2 linked regions of the Homo sapiens genome follow. The protein of the gene in region 1 interacts with the protein of each later gene in a pairwise test. Each region holds a gene or a part of one and is shown on either strand. Other genes may lie near its edges. The genes, in order: GUCY2D and RD3.

Region 1 (11,591 bases):
AACATTATTGAATAAAATGAAGTAAATCTATATCTAAGAACATGGAAAACGTCCAAGACATGTAATAAAGGGAAAAATAGAAACTAATACTCGACAACCAGTTAGAAGATATAATAGAAGAAAAGGACCTACAAGAGCAATATAAAAGATAAAATGCTTTTTAATAAACTTAACACAGTTCACAGGTTCTGGGGATTTGGAAATAAAAGAAAAAAAAAGAAAAGAAAAATACAATGATAAAAAAGAAAAGAGTAACAAGAAATACATCAAACTCACTTAAAGAAAAGGTAAAAACACTACAGAAGGGTACAAAAGTAGGCTTCAACAAATAGTAGTCTTGCCCAGAAAGACTCAACATCCTAAAATGTAAATCTTCCATAAATTAATTTATAAGTTTAACACAATAACAAAGAAAGTGCCAATGACTTTTTAAAAATTAGGAAGATGATTAAAAAGACAATATAAAAAATTAATGCATAAGAATTATCAGGAAAATTCTGGAAAGGAGGAGCAATGAGGCAGAGGACGGAGAGTAGCTCTGTAAATTAATTAAAAATATTATAATACTTCAGTAATGAAAGTAGTATAGTAGTGGTTCATATTAGACAGACTGACCAAGGGAACAGAACAGAAAATCCAGAAATACATGCAGATACATTCAGGATTGTTCTTTATGATGATATGAGGAGAAATGAATTATTCAGTGAATGGTAATGGGACAGCTGGGAACCAGGCAGATGAAAATAAAATTGGATCCACACCTTACTCCTCACATCAGGATAAATTCCAAAGGGGTCACAGATTTAAATGTAAACGTGAAACTGTAAGTCCTTGAAGAATGAAGAAAACATTGGAGAATGTGTTTGTAGCCTTTGCTTTTCTGATAGTGATTTAAAATCCAAACGGCATTTAAAAATTTTAAAAGACTGCATTTGAAAATGTACTTGGCAAAAACACACTCACATTATAAGCAAAGAGTAGACACATCAACTGGGATTTTTTTTTCAAATCATATTACAAATGTGTATTCTCCTAACATATAAAGAGATCTAAAAAATGATAAGAAAAAGACCAATAACCCAATAGAAAAGTGAGCAAAAGATATAAACAGACAGTTCTCAAAAAAGATATGCAAAAGGCCTGTAAACATGAAAATATGTTCAGCCTCACTCAGAAGAGAAACACAAATTTAAACTATACCATGATACTTTTTTTTCCCTTGGATGCCATTTTTCTTTTTCAAATATCAAATTGGAGAAATTAAAAACACACTCTGAATCCAGGCTGTGGGCAACAAGACACTCTAAGTCATTGCTGGTACTAGTGTAAATTGGCATAATCCCTAGAGGGGACAATTTGGCAACATCTCTCCAAATTACAGTGCATTTACACAGGCAATTTGCCTGTAGATGTACTTAGATATATGCAAAGTGAGGCTTGTACAAGGTATTCATCGGAGCAGCAATAGCAAAGAGTAACCAGGTTACAGTTCTGCGATTCAATGGAATCTATGCAGCTATGATCAGCTCTCTATGAAACAAGAAACAAGACCTCCAAGATATTGTTGAAATAAAATAGCAAGGTACAGAACAGTGTTATCTTTTATGTAAAAAGGGGACTAGAAGAAAATAGATTCTTATTGCTTGCGTATGCCCAAGGAGCGCCACAAAACGTATGAGAATCTACCTGTGGCTCTCCCTTTGGGGGAAGTGGGCTGACAGGGGACACACGTGGTAGGGAGCATTTTCACTGTATATTCTTTTTTGTTTATTTTATTTTTGAACGATGTAATTGTATTATATTTTCATAAAACAAATATAAAATATTTTAAGGAGGGAAGCAGATTGTAAAATAGTACATAAAATTATCTATTTTCGGCTGGGCGTGGTGGCTCACACCTGTAATCCCAGCACTTTAGGAGGCCGAGGCAGGTGGATCACAAGGTCAAGAGATCGAGACCATCCTGGCCAACATGGTGAAACCCCGTCTCTACTAAAAATACAAAAAAAAATTAGCTGGGCGTGGTGGCGCACACCTGTAGTTCCAGCTACTTGAGAGGCTGAGGCAGGAGAATTGCTTGAACCCGGGAGGCAGAGGTTGCAGTGAGCCAAGATCGCACCACTGCACTCCAGCCTGGTGACACAGTGAGACTGCATGTCAAAAAAAAAAAAAAGTTATCTATTTTCTCATATATGCATTTTTAAAAGCTATTTACAGTGGTTATCTTCAAAAGTCTTTTATTTTTGCTTACACATTTTTGCATACTTTATTACAGATGTGAGCCACTGTGCCCAACCCGTTTTAACATTTAATAGTGAAAAAATGATATATTTCTGTTTCCTCCACACTATTCTTTAACTATTACAAACTGTAGTTTAATGGAATCCTGATTTTTACCCTCTAGTTTGGATTCAGTGTTTCTAACTTGAAGTTTTTTTGTTTTTTTTGTTTTGTTTTGTTTTTTTGACCAGACCCCCAGGACTTGTTTCCTTCTGTGAGATTCAGGCCAAATTGGTTTCAAAAGTTGTTTTGCTTCAAGGAATAGTTTTTCCTTATCTACTGCTGCAGTGATTCCACAAACAGAAACTTCTAATTCCTTCTGTCAACTCCTCCAAATTTCGTGACTTTATGGGGGGCAGGGAAGGGACTAAAAATCTCAGAAGAAAGAGCTTTATACCCTTTGCCTCTAGACAGAGCAAAACCAAGACCTTCCAGAGAGGGAGCGCCACCTGCAGCTGAGGCTATTTATAGTACAGGAGTTGGATTTAAATATAATTCTGTCCTCTGGTAACTCCAGCCAGCTGCTACTTTAAGATTTGGCGCCGCCCTTTATGTAAGAGGGCATGTTTTGTTTCAGTACCTTTCAGATGGAATCGAAATTTAGCAGTAAGCAACAAACAAGCTCTGGTGTGGGCCACTGGAAGTGAGAAGCAGTGTGGTGGCAGGAGGCTGGCTGTGCAACCTTGGCGTGAGGACTAGAATGGATTTAAAATAGTCCACTCCTTGAGTATAAAATGGTACAGGCTCTGCAGAAAACAGTGTGTCAGTTCCTGAAACAATCAAGCATAGAATTATATGATCCAGGCCAGGCACGGTGGCTCACACCTGTAATCTCAGCACTTTGGGAGGCCAAGGTGGGTGGATTGCTTGAGGTCAGGAGTTCGAGACCAGCCTGGCCAACATGGTGAAACCCCGTCTCTACCAAAAATACAAAAATTAGCCTGGTGTGGTGGCGCCTGCCTGTAGTCCCAGCTACTCGGGAGGCTGAGGCAGGAGAATCACTTGGACCTGGAAGACGGAGGCTGCAGTGAGCAGAGGTCAAGCCACTGCCTTCCAGCCTGGGTGACAGAGTGAAACCCTGCCACAAAAAATAAAATTAAATAAAATTAAATATTTATTTGAAAAAAGAATTATATGATCCAGCAATCCCACTTCTAGGTGTATACCCAAAACAACTGAAGGAAGGGACTCAGAGACCAAGAGGTGGAAGCAAGCCAAGTGTCCACAGAAGAATGAATGGGTAAATAAAATGTGGTATATACTGTACATACAATGGAATATTATTTAACCTTAAAAAGGAGTGAGGTGGGGCTTGGTGGCTCACACCTGTAATCCCAGCACTTTCGGAGGCCAAGGCAAGAGGATCACCTGAGGTCAGGGGTTTGAGACCGGCCTGGCCAACATGGTGAAACCCCGTTTCTACTAAAAATACAAAAATTAGCCAGGCATGGTGATGCACGTCTGTAGTCCCAGCTACTCGGGAGGCTGCGGCACGCAAATTGCTTTGAACCCAGGAGGCTGAGGTTGCAGTGAACCGAGATTGCCCCACTGCACTCCAGCCTGGGGTGACAGAGTGAAACTCTGTCTCAAAAAAAAAAAAAAAAAAAAAAAAAAGGAATGAACCTCTGATACGTTACAGCATAGGATAAACCTTGAAAACATCATGCTAAGTGAAATAAACAGACACAAAAGGACAAATACTCTATGATTCTACTTATGTGAGGTAGCTAAAGTAGTCAAATTCATAGAGACAGAAAGAATGATGGGCCGGGGGCAATGGCTCACACCTGTAATCCCAGCACATTGGGAGGCTGAGGTGGGAGGATTACTTGAGCCCAGGAGTTGGAGACCAGCCTAGGCAACATAGTGAGACCCTCATCTCTGCCAAATTTCAAAAAATTAGCCAGGCATAGTGGCACATGCCTGTGATCCCAGCTGCTTGGGAGGCTGAGGTGGGAGGATTGTGTGAGCCCAGGAGGTTGAGGCTATAGTGAGCTGAGATCGTGCCATTGTACTCCAGCCTGGGCAACAGTGCAAGACCCGGTCTCTAAAAAATAAAAAGGAAAAAAAAATAAGAACAGTGGTTTCTGGGGGCTGGAGGGAGGGGAAATGGGGAGCTAGTATTTAATGGGCACAGAGTTTCAATTGGGTAAGATGGAAAAGTTCTGGAGATGGACAGTGGTGATGGTTGCACAACAATATGAATTTACTTAACACCACTGAATTGTACACTTTAAAAATGTTAAAGTGGGGAGACTGGGCGCGGTGGCTCACCCCTGTAATCCCAGCACTTTGGGAGGCTGAGGCAGGCGGATCACGAGGTCAAGAGATCGAGACCATTCTGGCCAACAAGGTGAAACCCCGTCTCCACTAAAAATACAAAAATTAGCTGGGCGTGGTGGCGGGTGCCTGTAATCCCAGCTACTCGGGAGGCTGAGGCAGGAGAATCGCTTGAACCCGGGGGGCGGAGGTTGCAGTGAGCCAAGATCACACCACTGCACTCCATCCTGGGCAGCTGAGTGAGACTCTGTCTCAAAAAAAAAAAAAAAAAAAAAGTTAAAATGGTAAATTTTATGTTAGGTATATTTTATGACAAAAAGATTTTAAAAATCCCCCCTTCATCTTCATCTATATTACCCATCTGTCCATGGACCCTAGAGGAAAATTGGGAGATTGTCAATTTAACCAAATTGGTCTCTGGACCTCATTCTCATCATGTGTGAAATGAAAGAGTTGGCTGGAGTTTCCACAATTTCATGTAGAGATGTTGAGTCAGAAGACAGGAGATGTGGGGAGGTAACTCTTATGGAAGGTAAGAAGCACAGCACTGTAGAAACGAATATTGATGTCTACTGGATTTTGGAAGTCTGCTACAGGTCAGACATCTAAATTTTTGTTGACAAATTTTTTTTAATTTAAATTAGAAAACATTTCAAGCATACAGAAAATCCCTACATATAGCGATTGTTTACCACCAAAAACTAACAGATGTTAATATTTTGCCATATATATATATGATCCGCCAGCCTCTGCCTCCCAAAGTGCTGGGATTACAGGCATGAGCCACCATGCCCAGCCTATGTGTCTTGCTTAATAAATCCATTCCTACCCTGAATTGATAAAGATGTCTTTTCAATCTATGTCTTTTTTTCTCTTAAAAATTTCTGCTCTTTTTAAATTTTTCTATTTTCTTATTTTTTTTCTTTGTTCTTCAGAGCAGATCTACTTTCTTTGAATTCTATAATCTAAAATTTTTAATTAACTTTATTTGGAAATAATTTCAAACTTAAAAAATGTTGCAAAAATAAAAAATATGCAAAGAACACTCACAGGCTGTTTACCCAGATTCACCTATTGTTAGCATTTTACCCTATTTGTTTATCATTTGAAATAGATAATATATAAAACATACCATATATCATATCTAATATATATTTTTTCTGGACTGCTTGAGGGTCAGTTATATACATGATGCTTTACCATTAAATACTTCAGTGTGTATTTCCTATGAACAGGGATAGTCTAACATAACTACACTACCATTATTAACTTTATAACTTTATACTCTTTTGAATCTCCTGTGATATTCCAATTTTGTCAATTGCCAATTTTTTTGTTAATGTTGATGTTCTTTATAGCATTTTTATAACCCCATGCCGCCCTATAACCATTTTTCTTTTCTTTTTTTGTTTTTTGAGATGGAGTCTCACTTTGTTGCTTAGGCTGGAGTGCAGTGGCGCGATATTGGCTCACTGCAAACTCTGCTTCCCAGGTTCAGGTGATTCTCTTGCCTCAGCCTCCTGAGCAGCTGGGATTACAGGTGCACTCCACCACCCGCGGCTAATTTTTGTATTTTTAGTAGAGACGGGACTTCACCATGTTGGCCAGGCTGGTCTCAAACTCCTGACCTCAAGTGATCCGCCTGCCTCGGCCTCCCAAAGTGCTGGGATTATAGGCGTGAGCCACGGTGCCCGGCCTCAAGCCCTATAACCTTATAGCACTTTAAAAAAATCCAATGATACAGAATCCAAACTAAGGGCAGGTGTTGCATATAATTGTCATGTCTTTTTAGGTTTCTTTAATCTGAAACAGTTCCTCAACCTCTATTTGCCTTCTATGACATTGACATTTTTGAAGAATGCAGTCCTCCCCACCTTTTTAAATAGAACGTTTCTCATTTAGTGTTTATCTTATGTTTCCTTGTGATTAGATTTGAAATAATGCTGGAACATTGCCGAGACGTATTGTGCAGCACTGCATAGGTGTAGTATTATGTCCTTCTCAGGGTATCACATCTGGAGGCAAAGAATGTCTCTCTGCCCCTCATGGTTAATTTTGATCACTTGCTTAAAGTATTGCCCCATTTCTCCACTGTACAATGACTGCTTTTTATTTTATTCCCCACTCCCTTCCAACTCATGGCAATCTGGAGGGAGATACTTTCAGACCCTGCAAAAGTTCTGCTCCTCATCCAACATTTCCCCCAGCTTTAGAATCCACTGATGATTCTTACCTGATCCAATCTTTGCCACCAAGTCTGAAAATGATTCATTTAAAAGTTTTTAAGTTTTATTTTTCACATATAGGTCTTTGACCTGGAATAGATTTTGTGTATGGTGTGAGATAGGGATTGAATTCTATTTTCCCCCCAGATGGCTAATCAGCTCCATTTGTTGAAGTTTATTCTTTCCCAGTTGGTAAGAAATGTCCACGTCTTCACACATTTGCTGTGTTTGTTTCAGTACTGTATATTCTATTTCATTGGTCCATTTGTTTATCCTTGTGCCAAAACTATGAAGTCTTTATTGCCATAGCTTTATAATATATATTTATATAAATATATAATTGCTGTCACTACATAATGTGGATTTATATAAATATATAATATATAATTGCTATAGCTTTATAGTATATATTTATATAATTGCTGTTTTATATATCATATAATTATATAAATATATAATTGCTATGTTTTATATATTATATATTTATGTAGATATATAATTGCTATGTTTTATATATTATATATTTACATAAATACATAATTGCTATTGCTTTATAATAAATTTGTATATCTTATAGGGCATCTTCCATTATACTCTTCTCTAAAATTGTTAGCTATTCTTGCCATCCGGGCAATTATATTCATTTTCACAACAACCCTCAGATTAAGCAATTGCCCAAGGTCCAAAAATCAGCAAGAGGGACTTGGAACCCAGGTCTGTCGGAGGCCAAAGCTCTTTTCATTACTTCCTGAGGGTGGTTTTCTAGGCATGGAGAAGCAGAGGTCAGGGAATCAAGTGTGGCGAGAGAGAGAAGAGAAGTGAAAGAAGAAAGGCAGGTGTCAGCTTGGTGTGGGTTTGGTCTCTGGGATATAGACTTTGCCAGCCAAAGGATGGAGCTTGAACTTAGCTGGCAGAACTGGAAACAGAAGATTGTAAGGAAAGGGACTGGGATCAGTGTTTCTTCTCCAGGACGGATTACCCACAGCTGTCCACGGGCAGGCACTTGTTACTTTCTGGCTGAGCAGGGCAGTGTGGCCGACGGCTGAAAGGGGAAGCTGCGGCTGCTTTTGTGCAGGGGTGGTGGTGATGAGGGTGATGTGGGGGGCTGGAAGGCATGGAGGGGAAAGGATCTGGCTGACTACCTGGAAGCCAGGACAGATCCCACCCCAGAAAGGCGCAGTAGGGGCTCTCATCCTCCACTAGCCCGCCCCTCCCTACCTAATTAAGGACCCTAATCAGCTTGGGGAGATTAAGGGCTCTGGCCGGCTGTACCCACGCCCCCGCCCTGGCCTGGGCTGGCAAGGAAGACCTGTGGGCGGGCGTCAAAAGGGGGACCGGCCCTGTGACCCCTCACCGGGGGCCGTGGGCCCGAGCCCCCGGACTTCCCTGTAAATGTCAGAGGCCCCTCCGCTGGGATAGGGTCGGTCTGAGGGCGCAGGCGAGTCCCTGCTGACCCCTGACGCCTCCGACGGGGGGAGGGGCAGGCCGGGTGGGAGCGGGAAGCCGGGGCGGCAGAAGGGGGCTTCGGGGCGGTGTCCTTGGCCCCAGTTAGTCTTCCCAGCCTCCGGAGGGGGCGGTAGCAGCAGAATCATCCCATGGGTTACTCGGGCTTGGAGAAACTCGGGGTTACGGGGAGAACCCTAGGGGAGGCCGGGGTCTCAGTCGCTCAGCCTGCTCCGTCTGTGTTCGCAGAAGCCGGCAATGACCGCCTGCGCCCGCCGAGCGGGTGGGCTTCCGGACCCCGGGCTCTGCGGTCCCGCGTGGTGGGCTCCGTCCCTGCCCCGCCTCCCCCGGGCCCTGCCCCGGCTCCCGCTCCTGCTGCTCCTGCTTCTGCTGCAGCCCCCCGCCCTCTCCGCCGTGTTCACGGTGGGGGTCCTGGGCCCCTGGGCTTGCGACCCCATCTTCTCTCGGGCTCGCCCGGACCTGGCCGCCCGCCTGGCCGCCGCCCGCCTGAACCGCGACCCCGGCCTGGCAGGCGGTCCCCGCTTCGAGGTAGCGCTGCTGCCCGAGCCTTGCCGGACGCCGGGCTCGCTGGGGGCCGTGTCCTCCGCGCTGGCCCGCGTGTCGGGCCTCGTGGGTCCGGTGAACCCTGCGGCCTGCCGGCCAGCCGAGCTGCTCGCCGAAGAAGCCGGGATCGCGCTGGTGCCCTGGGGCTGCCCCTGGACGCAGGCGGAGGGCACCACGGCCCCTGCCGTGACCCCCGCCGCGGATGCCCTCTACGCCCTGCTTCGCGCATTCGGCTGGGCGCGCGTGGCCCTGGTCACCGCCCCCCAGGACCTGTGGGTGGAGGCGGGACGCTCACTGTCCACGGCACTCAGGGCCCGGGGCCTGCCTGTCGCCTCCGTGACTTCCATGGAGCCCTTGGACCTGTCTGGAGCCCGGGAGGCCCTGAGGAAGGTTCGGGACGGGCCCAGGGTCACAGGTAGGCTCCCTTGCAGGGTGCGAGGAGGTCGGCTGGTCCTGCCGGCAGCCGGACGGCGCCGCGAGCCAAGCCTCTGTCCGCAGCAGTGATCATGGTGATGCACTCGGTGCTGCTGGGTGGCGAGGAGCAGCGCTACCTCCTGGAGGCCGCAGAGGAGCTGGGCCTGACCGATGGCTCCCTGGTCTTCCTGCCCTTCGACACGATCCACTACGCCTTGTCCCCAGGCCCGGAGGCCTTGGCCGCACTCGCCAACAGCTCCCAGCTTCGCAGGGCCCACGATGCCGTGCTCACCCTCACGCGCCACTGTCCCTCTGAAGGCAGCGTGCTGGACAGCCTGCGCAGGGCTCAAGAGCGCCGCGAGCTGCCCTCTGACCTCAATCTGCAGCAGGTAGACGGTCCCGGGAGGAGGGAAGAAGGCAAGGGAGAGGGGAGAGGACAGCCAAAGCAGGGAGAGGAGGATGCAGCCAATGGAGAAAGAACCACTGGCAGCTCTAGCTGTTTGGAGTTTCCTGGGTAATGTAGAGGCTCTGGCCCCACTTGGGGTCTCTTAGTGTACGAGGATTGCCTCTAGAGAGTAGGCAATTCGACCTCTCAAGTCCAACATCAAGCAGTAAACTCTAATGAACTGTAAACTGCAAAACCTTTTGCAATTGGCTTCAAAGTAAACCCGTTTCCACCACCACATACTCCCAGCTGTCTAAAATAAATACTTGGTGTTCTTGAAAGCAGGAAGGAGGGAGGATGCCAATCCAACCTTCATCCCTAGTTCAGAGGTATTTCCTCTGGGGCCTCATCTGGTGGTCTTAGCTTTTCAAGGGCCTAGACACCTTGCAAGAAGCAGAAAGTTCCCTGGGTGGATTCAGGGGCAATCCTAACCAGATCCATAGTGTATTTCCAACATCCAGCTAATACCTAGGGATCCCCAAGTCCCCAGAATCCCAGTTCAGATCATCTAACTTTACTCCCGCCACAAAGGGGGACTAGAAACCACTATGAGAAGGGAATTTAGATGTCAACGGGCAGTGAATTAACCACCACAAAGGTCCAACTCACAGGCGGCTGCATGAGAGAAGGGTCGTAGGGGTTGCAATTTCCCATCGATGCCCCTAGATTCTTCCAAGAGGATTGGAGGTGTCCAATGGAGGGGGGAGGGGTGCAGTGATGGGAATAGTCAGAAGAGAATACAAGATAGGAATCATAATGAGATGGGATGGAGGGAGGGTCGGTCAGTGGAGAGAGGGAGGTTGAGAAAGTAGAGAGAGAAAAGCCCTTCAGCTCTCAGTAAGTACCACAGCAGTCCTCTCCACTGCCCAAACTGCGCAAGCCTCTGAGCGTGTGAGTCACCCTTGATTCCTTGAATTCTTCGCCCCCACTTCCAGGCATCAAGCCCTGTTACTGTTACTTCCTAAAGATCATTCGAATTCATCCGCTTTCTCCATCTTTACTGTCACTGCCCTGATTCAGGCCACAGCACCCCCAGCCCAAATCCCAAAACATAATCTCTCAGATGGTCTCTGCTTCAACACTCACCTGCCCAACACCTTTCTCCAGATCAAGCTTCAGAAATCTGACAGATCTCACCCTGTCATGCCCCTGTTCAAAGCCTCACAGTGGCTTCTGTTGCCCTGGATAGATGCAGGCCTCTCCACATGGCTTACCAGGTCACCTGTCTTTCTCTCTCTTCCACCTCCCATGAACTTCAGCCAGACCAAGCTACTCTGGGTTCTTGGAATGTGTCCTTCTCTTTTGCCTCTGAGCTTCTGAGTGTGCTGTTTCCTCTCTCTTGTCCCTGCCTCCCCTGGATAATTCTGACTCATCCCCTGAAGGATGGTCACTTCTAACAGCTCCTTCTCTGTCCACAGCCTAGGGTGGGGACACCCATTCCTGTCTCTGCAGCTCCCTCAGTTTCCCCTACTTTTACTCATTGCACTGCCTGAACACCCCTGTCTCTTTGGCAAGAAGAAAGGTTCCTTGAGACGGGGTCTGTCTTGTACACTGATACATCTTTAGTGCTCTGCACAGTGCCTGGCTCTCTGAGAGATGGCAACTGGGAATAATAGAGAAGCCTGATAAGATCGGGTGGTAACAATAGAGAAGGTTTTTTGTTTGTTTTTTGTTTAGTTTTTTTGTTTGTTTGTTTGTTTTTTTAAGGAACAACAGAAAATAGAAGCCAACCAAAAGATAGGTGAGAAGGCTTTTAGGTGAATGGTAGGTGATGAGGTTAAAACTATATGCTGGGCAACCAACAGGAAGAAGAGAGGACCTACAGGTGATGGAGAATTAGAATCAACCAATGGTCAGAGAGGAGGCTGAGTCCTGAAAAGAGGAACCAGTTAGTGGGGAGAGCAGGTGTGACAGCCAATAGGAGAGGGAGGAAGAGAGAG
Region 2 (11,557 bases), on another chromosome or scaffold:
CCACCGCCCTCTAATAGTGACATGTCCTCCTCACCTCCCCTGGAATGTGCATCCTTGGACTTCTGGGTGACCTCGGCACCCCACAGTCCATTCCTGCCTTCCTTACATCTGTTGTCTGTGGTCCTTGAGCCTGTGACATTACGTCTCTTGGGGCTCTTTCAGGTTCAGGAGAGTGGGGAGCAAGTCCACGGCATTTGTTTAACACAGAGACCAAGCCCAGTCACTCTGGCTAATGCGTTCTCTGTGGGTACAGCAAACACGAACTTAGCTTTTACCGTGTGCTGGGGCTTGATCTCCTTGACCTTGGGGAGCTCTTCTTCTGCAGGGATGCTGATTAAATGCTCAGGAAATGGTGTGAAGCACAGCCAATTCTTGTTATTCACAGTAGTTATTATCTATAAAGTTGTGAATTAGCAAACACTGAACCATTGCTCCTAGGGGAAATACAGGGTGAAGTTCAGTCCTCGTCCTGGATGAGGTTCCTGAAGCCTCTGGTCATGACATTTTTGTCAGCTGACCAATACATAACCTTGTTTTATGTGCATTTCTATTGAAAGACACCTTATTTACTCTATATTGTTGATTCATTAGCACTGAACTCACCGCCAGCAGTGCTAAGTCAGGCCTGAAGGAAGCTGATCTAACTCATGTAGTAAAGCGTGTCACTGCCTCCTTGCACTTAGGAACACTAGAAGGCCCTTCAGCACTACTTTTGGGGCCATTTTCGATATCAAAATCACAAATAAAAAGCACAAAGTATGAAAAGTGGGCACTAAATAGACTGTGAAAAGGACACTTAAGATCATGAGAGCTGAAACAAGAAGGCAGAGCGTGCCTTGTTCAAGCTCAGCAGGGAACAAGTCCATCAGGTCACTAACATTTTTCTACATGTCTAGAATGACCACAAAAGTATTAGGTTGGCGCAAAAGTAATTACTTTTAATGGGAAAAACCGCAATTACTCTTACAGCAATCTAATACTATGAGTAGGCCAGGTGCAGTGGCTCACACCTGTAATCTCAGCACTTTGGGAGGCTGAGGCAGGGGATCACTTGAGCTCAGGAGTTCGAGACCAGCGTGGCCAACACAGTGAAACCCTGTCTCCACTAAAAAACACAAAAATTAGGCCGGGCATGGTGGCACACGCCTGTAATTCCAGCACTTTGGAAGGCCTAGGCGGGCGGATCACCAGGTCAGGAGATTGATACCATCCTGGCTAACACGGTGAAATCCTGTCTCTACTAAAAAACACAAAAATTAGTCTGGGTGTGGTGGCTCACGCCTGTAATCCCAGCACTTTGGAAGGCCAAGGCAGGCGGATCACAAGGTCAGGAGATTGATACCATCCTGGCTAATATGGTGAAACCCCATCTCTACTAAAAAAATACAAAAAAATTAGCTGGGTGTAGTGGCGGGTGCCTGTAGTCCCAGCTACTTGGGAGGCTGAGGCAGGAGAATGGCATGAACCTGGGAAGTGGAGCTTGCAGTGAGCCGAGATCTCGCCACTGCACTCCAGCCTGGGCGACAGAGCGAGACTTCATCTCAAAAAAAAAAAAAAAAAAAAAAGTAGCCGGGTGTGGTGGCACAAGCCTGTAATTCCAGCTACTTGGGAGGCTGAGGTGGGAGAATCGCTTGAACCTGGGAGGCAGAGGTTGCAGTGAGCTGAGAGCACAGCACTGCACTCCATCCAGCCTGGGCAACAGAACAAGACTCTGCATCAAAAAAAAAAAAAGTTCTATGAGTATTGACTTTTGGATTACAAATAAATTTTAGTGAGTAGGCAAATTTGCCAGTACTTTGGTAGGTAATGAGGATCAACTGTGTGTACAGAAGGAAGAATGAGGCTTCAGGCCGGGCACAGTGGCTCACACCTGTAATCCCAGCACTTTGGGACGCCAAGGTGGGTGGATCACCTGAGGTCAGGAGTTCGAGACCAGTTTGGCCAACATGGTGAAACCTTGGCTCTACTAAAAATACAAAAATTAGCTGGGTGTGGTGGCACACGCCTGTAATCCCAGCTACTTGGGAGGCTGAGGCAGGAGAATTGCTTGAACCCAGGAGGCAGAGGTTGCAGTGAGCCAAGATCGTGTCATTGCACTCCAGCCTGGGCAACAAGAGCAAAACTCCATCTCAAAAGAAAAAAAAAAAAAAAAAAAGAATGAGGCTTCAGAGTGGAGAGGAGGGAGCAGCAGACAGAGGATAATTCACAAAGCGGTTACCATGAAGCTAAACTTTGAGGGGTAAGTTAACTTCCCCAGGTAGGAGGGGACTCTGGGTAGAGTGGGCACCATGCACAGGGGCATGAGACAACAGGGGATGAAGTAATGTCTTTAAGGTGATGGTGAAAAAACCAGCGGCGAACATGTCAGGAAGAGCCCTGATGTCCAGGAACCTAGGAAAGGGCAGCACTTCCACACCCACCCCTTTTCACAGGGTTTTTTGTGAGCTGGGTGGTGCCAACTGCTATTACAGAGAAACCCCAACTCAGTGCTTTGACCCAACAAGCATATGATTTTTTGCACACATTAGAGTTCAACATGAATGATGGGTGAGCAGCTTTTCATGAAGTGATTGAGGGACCTAAACGCCTTCAAAACTGTGTCTCCCCCACCCCGAGGGCCTCAGAGTCCTGGCTGACGATCAGCAAAGGGGAAAGGTGGAAGGTGGACAGTTGCACAGGGGTGTCTACCTGCCACACCTTGAAGTGACTCATGTCCCTTCCATCTACACCCTATCATCACACGGCCCCACCTAGATGGGAGGAGGGATGGGGAATGAAGTCCCCAGCTGGACAGCTGCTTCCTAGGAACATGTCTACTACATGTTCATGTACTCTGGAGGAGAAATGTGACTCTTGGTGGACAGCTAGCTGTTTCTGCCACAGGCCCTCACATTAGTCCATCAGACTACAGGGCAGAACTGAAAAGCTGTAGCCGGGCGCAGCGGCTCACCCCTGTAATCCCAGCACTTTGGGAAGCTGAGGCGGGTGGATCACCTGAGGTCAGGAGTTCGAGACCAGCCTCAACATGGAGAAACCCCATCTCTACTAAAAATACAAAATTAGCCAGGCGTAGTGGTACATGCCTATACTCCCAGCTACTCGGGAGGCTGAGGCAGGAGAATTGCTTGAACCTGGGAAGTGGAGATTGTGGTGAGCCAAGATCGCACCATTGCACTCCAGCCTGGGCAACAAGAGCAAAACTCTGTCTCAAAAAAAAAAAAAAGAAGAAGAAGAAGCTGTGGTCAGTGAAGTCTATGGAAATGGAGTGTCAAGGTGCAGTCTAGACAGAGTATATAGCCAATAAATGCTTGGTGAATGAATGAATGAATGAGAAGTGCTTTATGCCTCATTCCCAGCTAGCTGGCAGGGAAGGGAGCATTCTCATTTTTCCTGCCGTCAGACACATTGCTTCCTGTACCTGATGTCTGAGTCCATTCAGGCTTCTATTACAGAATACCATAAACTGGTGACTTATAAATGACAGAAATTTATTTCTCACAGCTCTGGAGGCTGGGAAGTCCAAGATCAAGGTGCCAGTAGATTCAGTGTCTGCTGAAAGCCCACTTCCTAGTTGATGGAGGCATCTTCTCACAGTGTCCTCACGTGGTAGAAGGGCCAAAAAGCTCCCTGAGACCATTTCACAAGGGCAGTAATCTCATTCCTGAGGGCTCCCCTCTTACGACCTAATCACATCCGAAAGGTCCCACCTCCTAACCATCACCTTGGGAGATTCAAGATTGAATTTTGGGGAGGACACAACATTCAGTCCGTAGCACCTGGAGAGGAAATGTGACCACAGGAATAGAAAGAGGGATGCCCAGAGAGAAGAGGTCTAAGTAACTGCAAATCTGGTCTGTACCTATGAATATTCTGTCCATTTAATTCAACTTCTTTGGGATTAGGGCTACACAGACCTTCTGCAGGATTTGGAAAACCCAACGCATGACTGAGTGGTTAGAAATGGTTTGAAATAGCCTGGAAAGACTCCAGGGAGGAGAGAACGGAGCGCGCGCGTGCACACACACACACACACACACACACACACACGCAGAGCCGGGGCTTATCTCTAATCTCCATGCGGATTTTAATCCAGCCTTGCATGTAATCGCCTCATAACTCCACATTTCCAATTTATTAATCAAATGCCATCTATGAGGCAATGTTGCGGGCCCCACCGGTGTTTCTGCATTTGATGGTTGCTGAATATCTATGCTTCAGCAACTTCCATCCACGCCAAACAAGAGAAAAACAACCGCCACCTTTTCTCCCCAGAGCAAATTCACACTCAGCAAGGATAATCACAAATCCTCCACAGGTGAACAAATCAGAATAAATGAGGAGTCAACACACCCACCAAGGCCTGTGAGTTACGGTATCAAGGCAGCTGTCAGGGAGGGTCGTGGGTTAGGGAGTGCCTCCCTCTTCTAATCACAGGCACCATTTGAAAAATGCAGGAGAGGGGCCAGCTGCGTCTGCCAGGGAGACTGCTATAAGTCGTCTGTGTGCTTGTTCCCTGGCATCCCAGGGTCAGGAGTCCTGAAGCTCATCTGGCAGCTGCTGCGACAAAATCTTTCTGATGGCTCAAGACATTGGCCTCTATGATCTCATTTACATTCATTGTGTGTGCATTAGAAGGGGAGATATTAATACAAAAGCATGGCTATAGAAAAGGGATGAATTGTTTTTATTCAAACACAGAATGGTCAGTAGCAGACCCAAGGTTGTACTACTTGGAGATAAAAGTCTTTAACTCTGGGCCCTAATGCTGTCCCTGCTCCCCACCTGCCTGCCAGACTTCCACCTCCTCCTCATCTGATCCAGCAATCCAGCACACACAGGCTTGGCTGGGATGTGTGCAGAGAGGAGAGCCAGGCTCAGCCAGCTCCTAGCTTGGTGCCCCTGTAGAATGGTGCTTTAGAAATACGTGCTGCACAGATGAGCATGTGACTTAGTCCATGCCCTCCTCTCCTCATTGCCTCCAGCAACTTTCCTAAAGGGAAGGTAAAGTCTTGTCATCCCCCTGCTCCCTTCCCTACAGTGTGGAAATGCCTGGGAATTTCTGCCCTTGGACCTCCAAGCCACGCCCCTTGGGAAAGTGCCAGGATAGTGGTGGGGTGCTCAGAGGTGGGGACTCCCAGTTACCTGCTTTGGGTGACTCTGGCCTTAGCTGGCCCTGAGGTGGAGGCCGCCTGGGAACTGTGGGTCAGAGGAAGTCAGCTTCAGCTCCCTCAAATGTGGGGATCTTCCATCCCCAAGTGACCCACTCAATCTTTGGGGCTGTCGTGCTGTGAACTGGTCAAGAGAAGTATATGATCCAACTCCTGACTCAAGAATCTTGCCTGCTTGATGGATGAAGAGGGAAGGCGGATGGAACCAGCTGAGTGGAACCAGCCACAGAGCAAGCACGAAGTGACAAATCACCCAGGGACGAAATCATGCAGGCAGGCAGGTGGGCAACCTGAGTCCATTTCATCAGCCATTGTTTAATTTATTCTTGGTTGTACTTTCTGCTTTATTTCCAACACAATCAAAACCAGATGTGTGCAAAAGTCACGCTATCACCCAGCACAGGATTACCTAAGATCTATTATAATGCAGCTTCATGCCCATTACAGTATTCCCATGCCCCTCACAGGGCAGTGTGCATCTGTTTTAGTGCTACCTAATGTCTGTTAGGTGCAAGCTGGCCCACACATGGCTTCTAGGCAGAACAGTCTACAAGTGACAGCGTGACCAGAGAGCAGAGACAGGAAGGAGGCCCAGACATGAGTGTGGGATGCTGCAGAACAGCAACAGGATGCTTCTGCTATCCCCAAATGTTATCTCAAATACCTCAACGTCAATGCTTTCTGTTCCATGTTCCTCTTCTCCCTGGACAGCCCCTCCTTCTGAAAGTCAGAACTGTCTGCTCTTGAGCTTGCCTTGAGGGAAGGAAATAATTTAGATAAGCAGAGAGGAAGACAGGCAAGGGATGTGGTGGGGCAAAGGCGGAGATGTATCTTCACAGGTCCCTGTCCTCAGCACCCAGAATCACCCCTTCCCTGTAGGAGGGAGCTGATAGAAAGAGGGGATCTCCATCCAGGAGCCACCCACCAGGCAGCTGGAAACATTTGCCAACAGCAGGTACACCTAGGGCTCAGCAGAGGGTTGGGTGAGAATGGTCTTGCCCAGTTTGTGCCACACTGAGCACCGGCTGGAGGAGGAAGCGGACAGAATGCCATCTGGACACAAGTGCTCCCTCACTGCCTGGGCCTGGGTCGCCTCAGGCTTTTGTGTCAGATCAGCCACTCCCTCTACAGATAATGCTGCTCCAGGCAAAGAGGCTTAGGTGGGTCTCCAGGGCAACCGCAGCTCAGGAGCTGGCCCGCCTCCATGGTTCATCAGGGAAGCTGTGGCTCCAGCCTCGCGGGATACATACACGCATACACACACACACACACACACACACACACACACACACACACACACCTACACACCCCACAAACAATAGTCCAGGCTGGATCTCTCCTCCTGTCTCTTCTCTTGGTAAAACTTCTCAGAGAACCAAAGAGAGGCAAAATTTGAGGCCAGCCGGCAGCAGCAGAGAAGCTGAGGGAGACTTGAGGATGTAGACTGCCCTGCCCTGCTGTGGCTGCTCAACTTTCTTTTTTTTTCCTGAAAATATCCAGACACTCTCTTCTCCCAGACTGGGAAGCAGAACGCAGGCCCCCTGCTGTGACGCTGCACCTGAGCAGAGGCTGACCTCAGAGGTAAGATGGAGGTCTCCCCAGGAGACAGTGTCTTCCCCACCCGCACCCTGGCACAGCTGCACCTTTGGAAGTTAGGGCTGAGGCTTGAAGCTGGGTGGGGTGGCCTCAAGGGGTGTGGCAGGCTGGGGAGCCTAGAAAGCCGCCCACCTCCGGGACCCAGATGGCCACAGGAAGGCCCCTTTAGTCCTCATCAGTTCCACAGGAGTTGGAACCGATGAGGGTCCTGCAGCTTCCTCGGGGCTATAGCCTGCTCCTTGTTTTGTAAACCTGTGGGAAGCCATTGTTTTTGCCTGTTCTGGAACTGCAAGCCTCTCGGGGAGGACCCAGCTCCAGCAGGTTCCTTTCTGCCTTTATAGAGTGGACACAGGCAGGGGGAAGGAAAGCGAAACCCAAATCAGAGACTCTTGCATGGGTTTGCGAACTGTGATTCGAGCATCTACTAAGTCCAAGGCACAGAGTCAGGCTCTGGGGATGCAGCAGCACCCAGGGCACGAGGGTGATGGATGTGCCTCAGTCCCCTCGAACATGGAGCAGTCTGTGCATCCCTGATAACATGCCCAGGAGAGTGGGCCCAGGCAGATGGGTGCAGGGTGGGGCGCCAGGGAGATCGGGCCTAGAAGGAAAGTCCAGCTGCGACCAAGGGATGAGGGTCAGTCCCCTCCCACTGTGGTCAGTCAGACCTGTGTACACGCCCTCTCCTGGCTGCACCTCTGCCTCAGAATGGGAAGGACTGGCTGCCATTCACTCATTCATTCAGGAACCGCTTATCAAGTGCTACCATGTGCAGCAGATTCAACCCACATTCCTCTCGCCCTTGCAGAATTCATAGCTAGGTGGGGAAGAGATAAATACAACCCAAAGCGTGAGAAACGTGTTTGCTAGATGCCATGGTGATGGGCCCTTGTGTCAGGCCCTGGTGGCTGGGATCAGTGCTCCATGGGTGGGGGGAAGTGAGGGGCCGGCTGCAGGGAGGAGTTGTCTCTTGAGGGGTTCCCGACAAATGAGCAGATGTCTGTCAGGTGGGCAGAGGATCCACAGGTCAGGCCCGCTCATATCTGGCTTGGTGGATTATAGGTTGTTTTTCTGTGATGCCAAAGAGAAATAAGGTCAATTTGCAATCTGTAAAGTTGGACTTGGGCCTTATCAAACACAGAGCTGGGAGGCAGATTAGCCAGAGAAGCACCTACTCTCTGCCCCCACTGAGAAGTCTCTGCCCAGACTGAGCGTCTGGCGTCAGCAGAGCCAGCCTGCCCCTGCAGTGAAGCTGCCAGTGCTCTGGGACAGCCTGACTCAGGTGCTGCTCTATGCCTGGGTCCGGCGGGTCACACAGGGCAGCCCCTCACCCTGGCCTGCAGATGCCTAGCTCAGCTTCAGAGGTGGAGGACCCGGGCCGGGTTCCCTGGCCATGGCTCCCTTTGCACTGAGAAATTGGCCTTCCTGGGCAAGGTCTGCACGCCCTCACTGTTTGGCTGGGGCCGGCGCAGGGCCTCAGTTCTCACTAGAGGTGAGGGCACTCTCATCCCTCCTGCAGGGGGTCAGAGCCCTGCTTCCAGCTCCAAGGTCACACTCCCCATTGTTCCCACCATTGAGACATCCCTGGTCCCCCTCTGAGTGCCAAGTGGAACCAGAGACTCCTCTTGCCCTTGAGGCACAACGCGAGAGTTTTTCCAGCACAGCTAACGAGCCACAGCTGGTAGTGGCGCCTCCCAGGAGCCACAGAAAAGACATTATCCTCAGGGATGTTCAAAAATAGGCTGAAAGGAAGGCTCTGAGAGTGTGGGGGTGGAAGGGGTAATGAAGGAGAAAGGAAAGAGGAAAGAGAAGATCAGAGAATGGAAGATAACGGGCGTGGGTGAGTGACACCAAAAGGCAGAGACAGAACGTGCGAGGGCTTCCCCATCATCCACTCTGCTCTGTAAACCTGAGGCCTCACCACCTGGGCCTTCTCTTGAAACAGGGAGGCTCAGCTCTCCCAACACGGTGACCAGAAGCCAGGGCTGGGGAAGGCCAGGAACAAAGTTGGGGTCAAGCTTGCACCAAGCCAGGGGATCCTTTATTTTTGTGCCCCCTTTGGGAGTCTGTGAAGCCTGTGGACACGTTCCTAGAAAAATGCTTCTAAATGCATAAAAGTAAATTCACTGGGGTACAAAGGAAACAAGCTCTATTGAAATGCAGCTATCAAAAAAAAAAAAAAGAAAGAAAAAATGATTTATGATATAATAATATGTGTGCTTCCCTATCAACATGTGAAATAATAAAACCTAGTAGCAAGTCTAATAAATGCCACAATTTCATAGTAGTGATGAGCATACCAGATAATTCAAGAATAACAACTTTAAAGCATTTTGTGAAAAATCTGTGGTTTCTGCTGGAGATAAAGCCATGGGGCTACTGATATTACTGTGGTCTATGACCCTCATTCATAACTAAAGAAATACCACATTTCAGTTAAAGGTTAGTGGAAATAAAGATGACTTTTTTCCCCACCCAAGTTCATAAATCCCTGAATTTTCCCTAGGACCCAAGGGTAAGAATCTGTACTAAGCGACAATGGTAGCCACTGATCTAGGTGAATCAGCTTATTGTTAGTTTATAAAAATAAAACATTTACAAAGACATAATCTCATTTGATTTTCACAGTAACTTGAAATAGGTACCTTTATTATTCCCTTATAGATTGGGGAAACTGAGGCTTGGGGCCATGAAGGTGACTTGGACAAAGGCAGCATACACGGGAGGGGAAGGGCGTAGGAACTGAATTCAGGTTTTATCTGCTGAAGGCTGCACTGTCTCCCCAAGCCCAGCCTGCTCCACCTGAGCTGGTGATCAAGTAGAGGCGGAGTGGGGGTGCAGCCAGGCCACCCAGCATGCATCTGAGGTCAAAAGCAGTGGAGGTGGTGAGTGGGGGTGAGAGTGGGGATGGTACTGGACCCCAGGCCCCAGACTCCACGGAGGGAATATGGGGAGAGGGAACGGAAGGCATGTATGTGTCAATGGACAGCAGCAACTCTGTCCCCACCCCGGCTCCCAGACAAAAGAGGGAAACGCAGCCCAAAGATTCTTACTAAGGACCCCAAGATGGATAGGGGTCTTAACAAGCAGGGCCCAGCCCATGTTCCTAGCTGGCTTTCATTTCTTTTCTTCTTGTTTTGTGTCATCATTGCATTTGGTCATCTGTCTCCTCTCTATAGAGCCTTCAAGACCTCTTTCCAGGTGGGTTTTTTTTTTTTTTTTTGACAGAGTCTTGTTCTGTCGCCTAGGCTGGAGTGCAGTGGCACCATCTTGGCTCACTGCAGCCTCCACCTCCCGGGTTCAAGCAATTCTCATGCCTCAGCCTCCTGAGTAGCTGGGATTACAGGCATCTGCAACCACACCTGGCTAATTTTTGTATTTTTAGTAGAGATGGGGTTTCACCATATTGGCCAGGCTGGTCTCAAATTCCTGGCCTCAAGTGATCTGCCTGCCTTGGCCTCCCAAAGTGCTGGGATTATAGTCGTGAGCCACCGCTCCCGGCCTCCAGGTGAACTTTTTAGCCACCTGATTGTGTCTCATAAGAATTACAACCCCTGATCACTGCACAGGATTTGTATAGTTTACTGAATGTTTTCACATATTGTCTCCTGCCCGAGTCTCAGAGAAGCCCTGTGGAGTGGGCTGAGCTGGTGTCTGAACACCATTTTATAAATGCAGAAACCAAGGCCTCGCTGGTTAATGAGCAGTAGCGGTTATGCAGAGAACAGGGGCAGGCACTTCCTGGGCACACCCTGCACTGCTTACACAGCCGAGGCCCAGGAGTCCCTTTCCACTCAGGAGAGCTGTGCCTTTGGTGGCATCGCAATTGCTTGTCTGCTTGTTTTCCCCCCTCTCTTGAGTGTACACTCCTTGAGGGAGTCCCAGCACCTAGCACAGCGACAGGCAGGTCACACACTCCTCCTGTGTCTGCTGAGCGAGTGAGTGGATGAGAACTCAGCCCTGCGCCTCAGTCTCCAGGCCCTAGGCCCTCCCCGCACACGCCACTGTGCAAGGCCTCGATGCCCAGGCTCGTGGGTGAAGAAAGACACAGCAGCAGAAATGAGCAGAATAGGGACTGCAGGCAGGGGTCCCGAGGAACAACGCAGGCCATCAGGTAGAGTGAATCAGGAAGGCTTCCTGCACAAGTGAGTTTTGAGGTAGAGCTTTCCCAACTTTTAAACTTGAATATGCATAAACATGCAGAAAAGTGTGATAAATATCTATCAATATCCCCCAGATACAACAATTGCTAATATTTTGCCATATTTGCTCTTGTAGGGGCCAAGGGCTTGGCCCTATGAAGGTTCACTTAAAAATCAACTCAAGAAAGGCTGATTAATTAGAGAAAAGGCGTACACATTTATCACAAACGCGTACATGGGGAGAATCACAGAGGAACTGCTCACCCCACACTGTGGTTCGGAAGCTTATATATCATCCTGGCAAAGCAGGTTATGGGAGGGGGAGAACAGCAGTTCTGGTGAGAGGATTACTAGGGAGAATGAACGGGGCAGGGATCAGAAATGAACTTGTACATTATCCTGGGAGAGGGTCTGTTCAGGTGGGGGCTCATTCTCGGTCTTAAGAAAGGGGAAGAAAAAAACCATTGTTCCCTTTGGTGGATCTGGATCTTAGGCAGACAAAGGCTTTGGAAGAGACGGTGGCCGTGGGGAGGGCCAGAGAGACCACGAGGCTTCTTCAGCTCAGCATGTCCAAATGCCATATCTTAGGATATTGGTTTCTGAGCCCCAACATCCTGTTTATGGGGTGTGTGTATACATATTTATGTAATGTTT

The links.
Region 2: the proteins of GUCY2D (region 1) and RD3 interact in binary tests that used the Homo sapiens proteins (3 or more experiments, as listed by UniProt).

What each region holds. Positions count from the first base shown.
Region 1 is NC_000017.11:7,994,562-8,006,152, forward strand, and holds the start of GUCY2D (retinal guanylyl cyclase 1 precursor), read left to right. Parts: upstream 1-8,053; 5' UTR 8,054-8,173; intron 8,174-8,477; 5' UTR 8,478-8,486; coding exon 8,487-9,207; intron 9,208-9,290; coding exon 9,291-9,595; intron 9,596-11,591. UniProt on the Homo sapiens protein: Catalyzes the synthesis of cyclic GMP (cGMP) in rods and cones of photoreceptors. Plays an essential role in phototransduction, by mediating cGMP replenishment.
Region 2 is NC_000001.11:211,486,960-211,498,516, reverse strand, and holds the start of RD3 (protein RD3), read left to right. Parts: upstream 1-6,354; 5' UTR 6,355-6,749; intron 6,750-11,557.